Regions from separate parts of the Homo sapiens genome. Here region 2 is linked to region 1. The links come from fine-mapping of genetic effects on gene expression. A gene starts in region 1. The other region holds a variant in brackets. All regions are shown on one strand. Distances are from middle to middle. Region 1 holds the start of LIN54 (lin-54 DREAM MuvB core complex component). Region 2 overlaps LIN54 (lin-54 DREAM MuvB core complex component).

Region 1 (5,381 bases):
TCTATAATACTCTTCCCCCAAAAAATGAACACTGGACTATCTCTGGTGGTATAATTCTTGCTTCATTTCTAACACACTTTTAATTATTAATACACAATTGTTCTAACCAGGACAATCTGAAAACTGGTCTTTAAAGACAATCACAAAGAATCACAAAGAGACAATAGCCCTCTGTGATTAAAAGAAAGCCAATGAAAAAGCTTTTTAATCTCCCTATTTTAATTATTTTTAAAATTCTTAGTCTTACTACTGAGTCAGCAGCTATAAGGCATGGGTCAAATAACTGCAACATAAAAACTGTAATTTTAAAAAGACAAAACCAAATACCTACTGAATAATACAGCATCAGACAAATTATTTTTAAAAAATAATCATTATCGTCATCATTAAACCTTCTGAGTACCTCTAAGGTATTTCTCCTAAAAATTTTTTTGGGTCTCTTATTCTTCTAGTAAGTGAAAGCCAGACCTACAAACTATACACACCTATTCACACAAAATATTTCCCCTCTAAGTAAACTACAAAATTTGTGATATATGACACACTATGGCACAGTGTGTTACATATACTCTTTGTAGACAATTTGAATAAGGAAATAATATCACATATACTCTCTGTAGACAATTTGAATACGGAAATTTAGGGCTAATCATAAACATTACCCATGGGCATTCCTCAATACTAATCCTTCTGTTCATTATACACTCAATGTCATTGACCCAAAAAAGCTGGGGGAAAAGCATAGGGTCCAAATTAATGTATAAAAATTTTTTTGCCCAGCCTAAAAATTTGATTCACATGTAACTTTTCTGTAACACTAGTGTTGTGTGCAAGGAGACAGACTCCTTACGGATCTTTCAGCATAACCTAAAACTTAACATGGGTCTTCAGATAACCTAATAAAACAGTGGCTGTTATAGTCAATCAATCCAGCTCTCTAAACAAAGGGCTAGGCTAATCACTCCAGCATTTAGTGATTTAGAAATAACAGAGGTCTCAATTTATTTTTCCCAACTTAATGTACTCACAACAAATGCTTGCATCACCCCATCGCAACTCTCCTTCTTAACAATGAAGGTAAAACTCAGGACCAAAAGAGAGCTCCTAGAGCTGTATTTCATTTGCATTATAAAATCTACAGCAAAATTTTTCATAACTTTACTCTCTGAATTCATGAACTAGGTTGGCGGGGGCAGGAGGGTGAGTATAGAGAAGAACTTCCCTGAAAAGCATGAGTATAAAATATAACTGAGAGTATCTCAATTGTTATATGCCAAATGGCAGGGGCAAAGAGGTTAGTTACTCTAAGGATAACAGAGCATTAAAAATTTTTTTTCTAATTCTTACAAAACTGGTCCCTATTCTATAAAATGTGAACATCCACAACCCAACAAGTTACAGACTAGGATCTAAGACACAGATCTTAAATGCAGATAAAATGCCAATGCTCTGCCTCCCTAAAGAAACGTACAACCCCAAGAACTGCTGAACACCATCAAAGCAACACCCGCCAGAGTGGCTGTTTTAAACATTATATCAGGAAATCATGATAAGTGCTAGCGGTTCCTCTAGGCCTCAGCAGCAGCCTTAGGTATAAGAGCAAACTGGAGCCCTCTTAACACTCAAAGAATAATGTTGATGTCATGACGAGGCTACTGATTCTTCGCACTCCGGACAAGTCATTCCTTGATCCACCGCGCAATTCTTTCCCCACCCACCCCCATCCCCCCAAATAAAGAGATCTCCGGACAGAGAAGCCCTCGGGTACCCCATCCTCCTCTACCTCCAGCGGCTGCCGCTTTCTCCTCCCTCGGGCTCCGAGGTAGGGGCTCCAGAAGGTCCTGGGCAATCCCGAGCCCCGGCGGGGCTTGTTTTGCCCGTGCACGATAGCTCTGGCCAGCAGCTTCCTTTCCCAGTTTGTCCAAACTGGAGCGCTCCAGGGTACCCGGGGACCGAGAAGGGAGCCGGGGTGGCGACGTCGCCGTCGCCGCCGCCTCTGGTATGTCAGGGGCCGGGATTGTATTTCGAAAGATCCGCCATTTTCACCTCGTCATCACCATCACAGCTCAGCAGCTTCCCCGACAGCCGGAGCCCGGGCCGCCGCCGCCGCCGCCACCACCAGTAACCTCCCCCTTCCTCCTCCTCCCCTCCCCGCCCGCCCCACCCGGGAGGCGCACACCCACATATCCGGGGAAGCCTCCCGCCGCCCCGCCAACCTTCAAACGCACAAGGGCCGTGCAAGTGCACACGGGCTACGCCGAGACCTTTCACCCCCGGGCGGAGCACGGGCCCCCGCAGGGACGCCAAAGGAAGTCGCGCCACCTGCGGGGTCCCAAGTCCGGCATATTTTTGTTTGCAAGACCAAAAGCCATGCGGAGGGTGGCATAAGGACAATAAAGAACCCAAACTCTTTCATTTTCAGAGCAGCAACTTGAGAGAGATGGTGGAATGCGTTTCATTCACTGTGGCTATCTCAGGCACTAAAAACACTGTGAAAGACCTTTAATGTCATTCACCAACTTTGACATTTTACCCCACCCGCAGAACTACTTTGACAGGATGAGCTATTTCCATATGCATGTTCGACCTTTGACACCTTTGTCAATTACAGGCAGCAATCCTCATGCAGATGAAGTGGTCAAAATATCTAATTTAAAAAAATAAAGTTCTGAGCTATCTTCCTCTCCAACTTAATTTATCTGGTCATTTCTGTCCATGAACACTGCGACTTCCAATCTGTCATCGGTTTAAGACGTCAAAGCGCAACTAGATTTGAAATGATTGAACTAATTGTAGAAACATTCATGAATGATCGATTTCTAAAATATTGAAAATATAACTCTTAGCTAAAATTATTTGCCAAATGTTTTTTTAGGATCTAAGTCATCAAATTAAAAAAAAACCATCTGCTGCTGATATATTTGTTCTGTACAGTAAAAATAAACAGCTTGCTTCAGAACAAGATCCTAGAGCTACCTACTAGGTAGGTAAGAGTTACCAGCTCTTGTCATCAGTCAGTTGAATAAGTAACCAAAAGAGAACAGAGGTAATTCTTAATCATTTAAAAAATAACAAAACATAAGCTGCAAGGCTTCTGAAGAGATCAGCATTAAAAAAAAAAAAAAAGGAAACTGGCTGCCTTTGTCAATTTTAGAAAGAGTTAACCATCCAAAAGCTGAATTCTGTATCATTCAACCACAACATAAGCTCTGGGCAAACTGAATTTCAAGGCTGCGAACAGGGCCACTCTACTGTCTAAGTTAGTGTAGGAAGAGTAAGGTTGAAGTTGAAGTTGAAAAAGTCATTTCATTTCCCTACCTTGTTTCAATGGCAACTCCATATAAAAGTCGGTAGATTCAGCCTTCAACAAGGGCTGTCCACCACCCACCCCAATTGCTGTTTTTATATGCAGACTACCAGATGCTGAGAGTATAAAGTGTTCTCAATTACTTCATCTTTAAACTTCATTTCCCCACTGACGGCCCCGTCCATCCGCACTCTGCTTGGTTGTTTACCGTTGCTGGCCAAGCTAAGTCCCGGCCCGCTCCCTTCCCCCGTGCACCTCGGGAACATTATGACATTTGGCTGGTGGGCTTCGCGAGGAAAACGGACACGCACGAACAAGAGCCTGTACAAAGGGGCATAGGAAGAACGCGGCGGCGGGCAGTAGGGAGAGGAGGGACTGGCACAAAATGACACAGCAGCAAAACCGGTTCCCAGAAACCTGGGGCCGCCACGGGTGGCTTGTTGGGTCGCGCAGTGTGCGTGTCAACAGCCGCAGGAGCCCTTACTCCAGACCGCCGGGCAGGCGGCTGGCCGAGCGCTGGCCCTGCCGGGTGACAGCCACCCTCTCGGGAGCCGACGGGAAGAGACCGAGCCCCAAGGATCCTTCGCCCCCCGCAACCCAGCTTCAGGGAAGGGGCGCGGCGGACCCCGCTGGCGGGTTCCCGCTCCCCGCCAAGGCCCACCGGCCCGGGCTCCCGGAGGGAGCGGTCCAGCGCTCTCCGCCCGCGCAGGCACTCGCAGCGGGGGCCGGTTCCCCCTTCCCGCCAGCCCGCCCAGGAGCCCCCATCCCGGGGGCTGACACTCACCAAAGCCGGCGGCGCCGCCGCCTCCTGGTCGCGCGGCGCTCCCTGGGCTCCCAGCAGCAGCGGCGGCGGCGGCGCCTCCGAGACACAGACCAGGGTTTGTTCAAAATCACGCGCCCAGCCCCATTCCACCGCCGCATCCCATAATACGCTGGGCCCTCCCCGCCCGCGCGCCCCTCTCTGCCCGCCCCTGCGCTCCGCACCCCGCCCCACGGCCGGCTTCCTTCGCTCCGCCTCTTCCGCGGCGCCTCGTCCCTCCCCTTGGCAACCCAAGCCCGCGTCATTCCGCCGGGCTCCGCCAGGGCGCTCCAGTTCCACGTGACGCCGAGTGGCGCCCGGTCAAAGCGATCGCACGGAATGTTCCATCGGACTGAAGCTGATGGGGGGAGGACCCGCATCGCGCTGCGGTTGGGAGAGACCGTCCCTTCGTCTAGCTTTCCTTGTTAGGAAGTCCGGGTTGTAGGTGCGACTTCCAGGATATCCCGCTGTTTGATGTGCTTGAGTGAGGAGGTGATCAGTAGTCACAAATGCCAAGTCACTGTGTTTTTAGGCACTAGTTTTGCAGTGTCGCTAAAAAGCCACAGGGAGATTCATTGAGAGTTAAACTTATTTTGAAAGACGTTTTGCATTTCTTGCAACACGCAGCTAAGACTAACACAGTCAAAATTATTTGTATTTAATCACCTTTTATTTTTTCCCGCGATTTATATGATATCCAAATACGGAGTCGGATGAACAGACGCTGACAGATCATTCTGAGGGGAAAAAAAAATTATTCTGAGAGATTATTATCAACTGCTGTGAGTGCGACAAGCACTACATATACGAAAATAGAAAATACAAGAGTGTAAATGTAAGATGGTGCGATACAGTGTATAATTTGCTAATGGAGTACGGAGGACATACAGGTCAGCATGAGAGACTACCTCGGGAACATAATGGAGGAGGTGAAACAGTGTAGGGGAGGCAGCAGTCACTTTGGAATCAAGCAGTACTGGTATTTAATGGCACCTCCGTTTATTAGTGTATATTGTATAACGTTTATTTTCCTATCCAGCAAATAAAAATAACAAAACTTCCCAGGATTCTGATGGTTAAATAAAATGAAGGGTGTTAAGCAGGTACACAGTCTCTGCCTGAAATGTTAGTTCCCTTGTGCCATAATCAACACCCAGTACCAGCCCAAACACTAATAGTCAGGATTTAACAAGGCAAATGTCATGAAATTAGCAAAGCCTTGAAAATGGGAAGGTCTGTGACATGTGTAAGTAATGTGATAAAGTTGAATGACAC
Region 2 (5,381 bases), 85 kb before region 1:
TAGCTGTAGGCTTTTTTTGTAAATGGTCTTTATCAGGTTTAGTCTTAGTTCTCTGAAGACTTTATTTTTTTGTTTATTGAATCATATGTGGCTGAATTTTACCAGATATGTTTTTCTGCACCTTTTGGGTAAAAAAATTTCTGAGATAAAATTCACATAACCATAATATTTACCCTCTTAAATAAGCATATAGTGGCCGGGCGCGGTGGCTCACGCCTGTAATCCCAGCACTTTGGGAGGCCAAGGCGGGTGGATCACCTGAGGTCAGGAGTTGGAGACTAGCTTGACCAATGTGGTGAAACCCCATCACTACTAAAAATACAAAATTAGCCAGGCTTGGTGGCGCATGCCTGTAACCCCAGCTACTCGGGAGACTGAGACATGAGAATTGCTTGAACCAGGAGGCAGAGGGTGCAGTGAGCTGAGATCGCACCACTGCACTCTAGCCTGGGCAACAGAGTGAGACTCCATCTCAAGAAACAAACAAGAAAATATAATTTAGCAGTTTTACCTATATCCACAGTCATTTTCTGCAACTTTTGAGATGATCATTTAGCTTTTCTTATTTGTATGCTGATACAGTGAACTATGTTTTTTTTAAAACATTGGATCAACTTTTATTCCCAGGATAAACCCTACTTGGTCATGATGTATTCTTTTTATAATACTATGACCAGATTTCATATGCCAGTATGATAGATGACAGTTTTATAAAGTCCCAGTGACCTTATAATAAACATAACCCTAAACATACTTGTTTTCTTATTGCTTTTGAATAGAAACTGAGTGTCTTAAATGCTGTCACAAAATTTGCCATTTAGAAGGAAATTTTTAATTAAAAAAAACCTTATAGCTTTCAACTCATAAAATCACATGGATTAAAAAAAAAAGCTCACCTTTGGTATACAGATAATGACAAAATGTGCATTCAAGAAGCCCTAACAAGAAAAGCCTGAAGTAATTTACATGATGAAAATAACTCCAATAGAAAGGGATTTTTAGTTGATTGCCTTCCCTTCTGCTTTGGGTAGCCACACCAGAATTCCTATATAAAATGCTTAAGAGATACAACATGATCAAAGTTATGGCCGGAGGTCCTGCTGTGAAGCTTCATTTACATAACAAGTATTCATTTTCTTAACTATTTGTGTTACAGAACAATAAAAATAGATAACTTTTCTAAAATTATTTTTATTCACATTTTACATAAGATTGAAAAAATGTCAGTTGTTCACTACCAGAAAATGGGGAACTAATCACTCTGTTTGCTTTTGTACCTGTAACATTAAGGTTCTGTTTCCCAGACCCCAGAGATAAGACCTACAGGTTGTGTTTAGTGCTTCAGAAAAAAAGGAAACTAAGAAAGATAGCTATCATAAGAACATTTCACATTAAAAGACAGAGTAGATTGATTTTCTAGGTATTTTTGTTTTTGAGACAAGGTCTCACTCTGATTGCCAGGCTGGAGTGCAGTGGTGTAATTTTGACTCACTACAGCCTCAACCTCTGCAGGCTCAGGCCTTCAAAGTAGCGAGGACTGCAGGTGTGCGCCACCACACGCAGTGAATTTTTTTATATTTTTAGTAGAGACAGGGTTTCACCATGTAGCCTGGGCTGGTCTAGAACTCCTGGACTCAAGTGATTCACCCGCCTTGACCTCCCAAAGTGCTGGAATTACAGGCGTGAGCCACCATGCCCGGCTGAGTTTCTGCTCTTAAAAGAAACAGTGGGGAAAAAAAGAGAAGACATATTCTCATTTCAAAGCAATTTATGTTAGTAATAACTGAGCAAAATGATAGAATTTTTTAGTTGTGTGTTTTCAGAAGTAATGTCAAATTTACTTCAGATAATTTAAAAGGTTTTTTGCATATTAAATGGTTAATAAAGTGGTGTTATTATACTAAAGAAAAAATGCAAAACCTTTTTTACAGAATAGTATAAATGTTTATTTTCTGTATGATTTACTTTGCTGTCCTGTTTTTACAATATAGAAAAGTGTATTCTTTGAATAGCTCTAGTAAATATAAATTTAATCTTTCTACTTTGGGATGTAAATAGAGCTAAAAAATTATATACCCAACCCTCCCCAAATAGTCTTTTAAAATCATTGAATTAATGTGGCTATTCATCTTGTTCAGCAATTTGATGCAAATGCCTGAATACAAAAAGTTATTTAGTAAGTACTACACAGGAAGGAAAAGGCTTAATATTTTAGATAGATAGATTTTTGAAAATCAGAAAAACTAGTAGCATTTGATTGCACCTTGAAATTTTTTTACAAGCAAAACATTCGTAAGCAATGCCATCATACATAATCTACAATTGTAATCAAAATTTCACGAACATTTTCTGCACACTGTATATAAATACACATCACAAAGGTGCAATTAGAATTAACACAGAGTATGTACAAAATGAACAAAGTTTAAGTTTAGACCAAAAACTTATTGCAATCTTTTGAAAAATAACTTGATTATTATTTTACCCTCTTACACTAATTTACATTTATACAAATTTTAATTAAACATACTAGATTGAGGTGCTAAGAATGTTTGAACTATCTACATTTAAAGTTACTGC[A/G]CTATGATTTTATAAATCCAAATTTAAAAGGAAGATACTTTAGTGAATAACGGAATCCTCTTTTGGATTACTTAATTTCTATTGCCTATATCTTGCATGTTCATATGAACATATATACACACTTAATACATACAACTATAGAGTCCTTGTAGGAAATGAAATAATCATATACTAATTACTGATGATTAAGGTACCTAACAAAATGCCTGAATTCCAACATGGTTTTTTCTTGTCATAAAATCAAGAGTCCTGTCACAACAGGCTCTTAAATTCATAGAGTTTTTGAATACTGAAAATGATTTAGGTTATTTTAGTAATTATAGGAAAACAGACCTTCCAAATCACTGGCTGAAAATAATGCCATATTAAACTTCCCTTATAAAAAGAAATCCCACCACAATTTTGAAAATTTTGTTAGGAGGCCCATTTCTGTAAATCAAGTAAGAGTTGCGATTTGGTTTGAAACCTCTTAGTTCAAAAGTCTATAAAAAGGGCCTGGCACGGCGGCTTATGCCTGTAATCCCAGCACTTTGGGAGGCCGAGGCGGGCGAATCACGAGGTCAGGAGATCGAGACCATCCTGGCTAACACGGTGAAACCCCGTCTCTACTAAAAATACAAAAAATGAGCCGGGCATGGTGGCATGCACCTGTAGTCCCAGCTACACGGGAGGCTGAGGCAGGAGAATCGCTTGAACCTGGGAGGCAGAGGCGTTGCAGTGAGCTGAGATCTCACCATTGCACTCCAGCCTGGGCTACACAGCGAGACTCCGTCTCAAAAAAAAAAAAAAAAAAGTCTGTAAAAATAATTGATTGTATAGATGAAAACTTCTCTAAATTCATCTTTTGCAGCTTCCCTATTCTTTGTTTCTCCACCCATGCCAAATTTTATACTTGATTACTATGTGAGGTTCTATATTATCACTACATAATGTTTACTTCCATTTATATCCACCTATCATTTTAATAGTACCCAGTAATCACTTTGACAATTTATTACTTCAAATACATACCACCTCTTTGAAAGAAAATGGAGACAGCCCAGAGCATCTGTTAGCCTTTCCTTATTATAGAAACACATTGCCCATCCTCTGAGATTTACTGTCCTTTAATATTTTATATGTTTTTTTAAATAACTTTAAAAAATTTTTAGTGTGCCTGGGGATTGTTTCCCCTTCTGACATTCCCAAAGTGACAACAGGATATTATTCCAGAATCGGCCCTAAAAGGCTGCTTTTTCTTTAAAAGATAGTCCTTTTCTAAATACAAAATGTCATTTGAATGTGTTTCATAAGAATTTGTTTATGTAACATTCTGTCTGCAGATATTCTAGATCAAGTCCCAAAGAATGGGTGCTAACCACTGCTGCTTTGGCTTTTCTATTAACAAAGTCATACAACACCATACATTATAAATTATATGAATTTATAAACATTTTTTGTCAAAGGTATCAGAAAGAGAACATCTAATTCTTAAGAAACCCAAGCAAATTAAAAAATCTATATAATAAAGAAAAATTCAATTTAGAAGGGGCATAAGCAGATTTAACTAAGATTTAAAATGTACTAATTTCCTCATTTAAAATTTCTTCTCCTTCAGTATTATAATTTCAGGTCTTTTAAAACAAGGACTGAATTAAAATACAGTAATTGTTTTTCTTCCAGAAAATCAAGTGTCCCTGCACCTTAAATTTTCTGTACAGTTCCATTTATCAGTCTTTTGTGCAAGAGTTAGCAATTCATGGCACAAGGGTCACTTTTTGCCTTTCCTGCAGAGTTGATGACACTCATCAAACATCGTCCGAATTCCTCAAGTATCATCCGTTCCGCTGCTGCCTTTGATTTTCCCTTCTTGTCTGCCTGCTCTGCCTGGGCAAGGAGGCAATTACATGTGGCTTCAGCTACTTCCTTAGTTACAAATGTAAATGGCAATCTGAAATGATTTTTGAAAGAGAAAGATGATGGTGGTGTTAAATAACAACAAAAGTGGATAACATTCTTTCATCTGGAAATCTCTACTGACACTTTCACAATTCACCAGCAGGATGAGCATCACAATTTACACAGTGAGCACAAGCACATCCTAAAAAGGGCTTTAAAAAGTTAAATTTGGTTTTATTCACATATTGTAAGAATATTGTTCAGGAAATTTAACATAAAACACGTTACTTATTACCTAGGCAAGGTTATGTGGTTAACTAAAAGATAATAGTCTACACGAAGACTAGAATTTCTTTAACTAAAATCCTCCTAAATCATGAATGTACGCTCTGTAAGTTCAATTCTTATTTACTGCTGTTGCTCCAGTGCCTAGAATAGTGCATGACATAGAGACGCTACATGAATAGTTGCTGAATGAATGAATAATACTGGGAATTGACAGCACTATCTCTTCGGCAAAATGAAAAATAAAGCACTTTACCATAGTCACTGATACTGTTTGTAGAAAACATTCCAAAATTCTGCATCGTTCTAGCACAACAAAACAAAATGGCGAAACCAAATGTTCTGTACACAGAGTTGCATTCATAAAGACCTGAGCTATTGAGTATTAAATTGGAGCAACCCATCGTGAGGCTTGCTATATTTGCAGCCAACTCAAGTCTTAAAGCCTGTGACAGATTAAGTCAAGCAACATAATCTAAACCACTAACTCAACAACCTGTGAGTAAGCGGTCACTAACAGAAGTATACTAAATAATGAAGTCTGAAATTAAAGCTCACTATGGCAAGAGAGGGTAATTGAGAATTCAGGCTGCCATGCAGCTGTATAGGAATCTTTAACATACAAACAAGCACTTTAA

The links. PIP is the estimated chance that this variant, and not a neighbour inherited with it, causes the effect.
Region 2: its variant is the best candidate, but not a certain one, in a credible set for the expression of LIN54 in blood mononuclear cells (TOPMed, PIP 0.79).

What each region holds. Positions count from the first base shown.
Region 1 is chr4:83,008,701-83,014,081 of GRCh38, forward strand. LIN54 (lin-54 DREAM MuvB core complex component) reads right to left here and starts at 2,123. Exons shown (of 13, transcript NM_194282.4): 1 at 1,784-2,123. RefSeq lists enhancers at 1,963-2,062, 3,944-4,829, 4,437-4,566 and silencers at 2,133-2,212, 3,937-4,266.
Region 2 is chr4:82,923,794-82,929,174 of GRCh38, forward strand. It overlaps LIN54 (lin-54 DREAM MuvB core complex component), which reads right to left. Exons shown (of 13, transcript NM_194282.4): 13 at 810-4,510. The coding sequence ends at 4,309. Among named protein-coding and RNA genes, the nearest start is that of THAP9-AS1, 26 kb to the left of the region's middle. The variant A/G (reference allele first, on the strand shown) is at 2,581.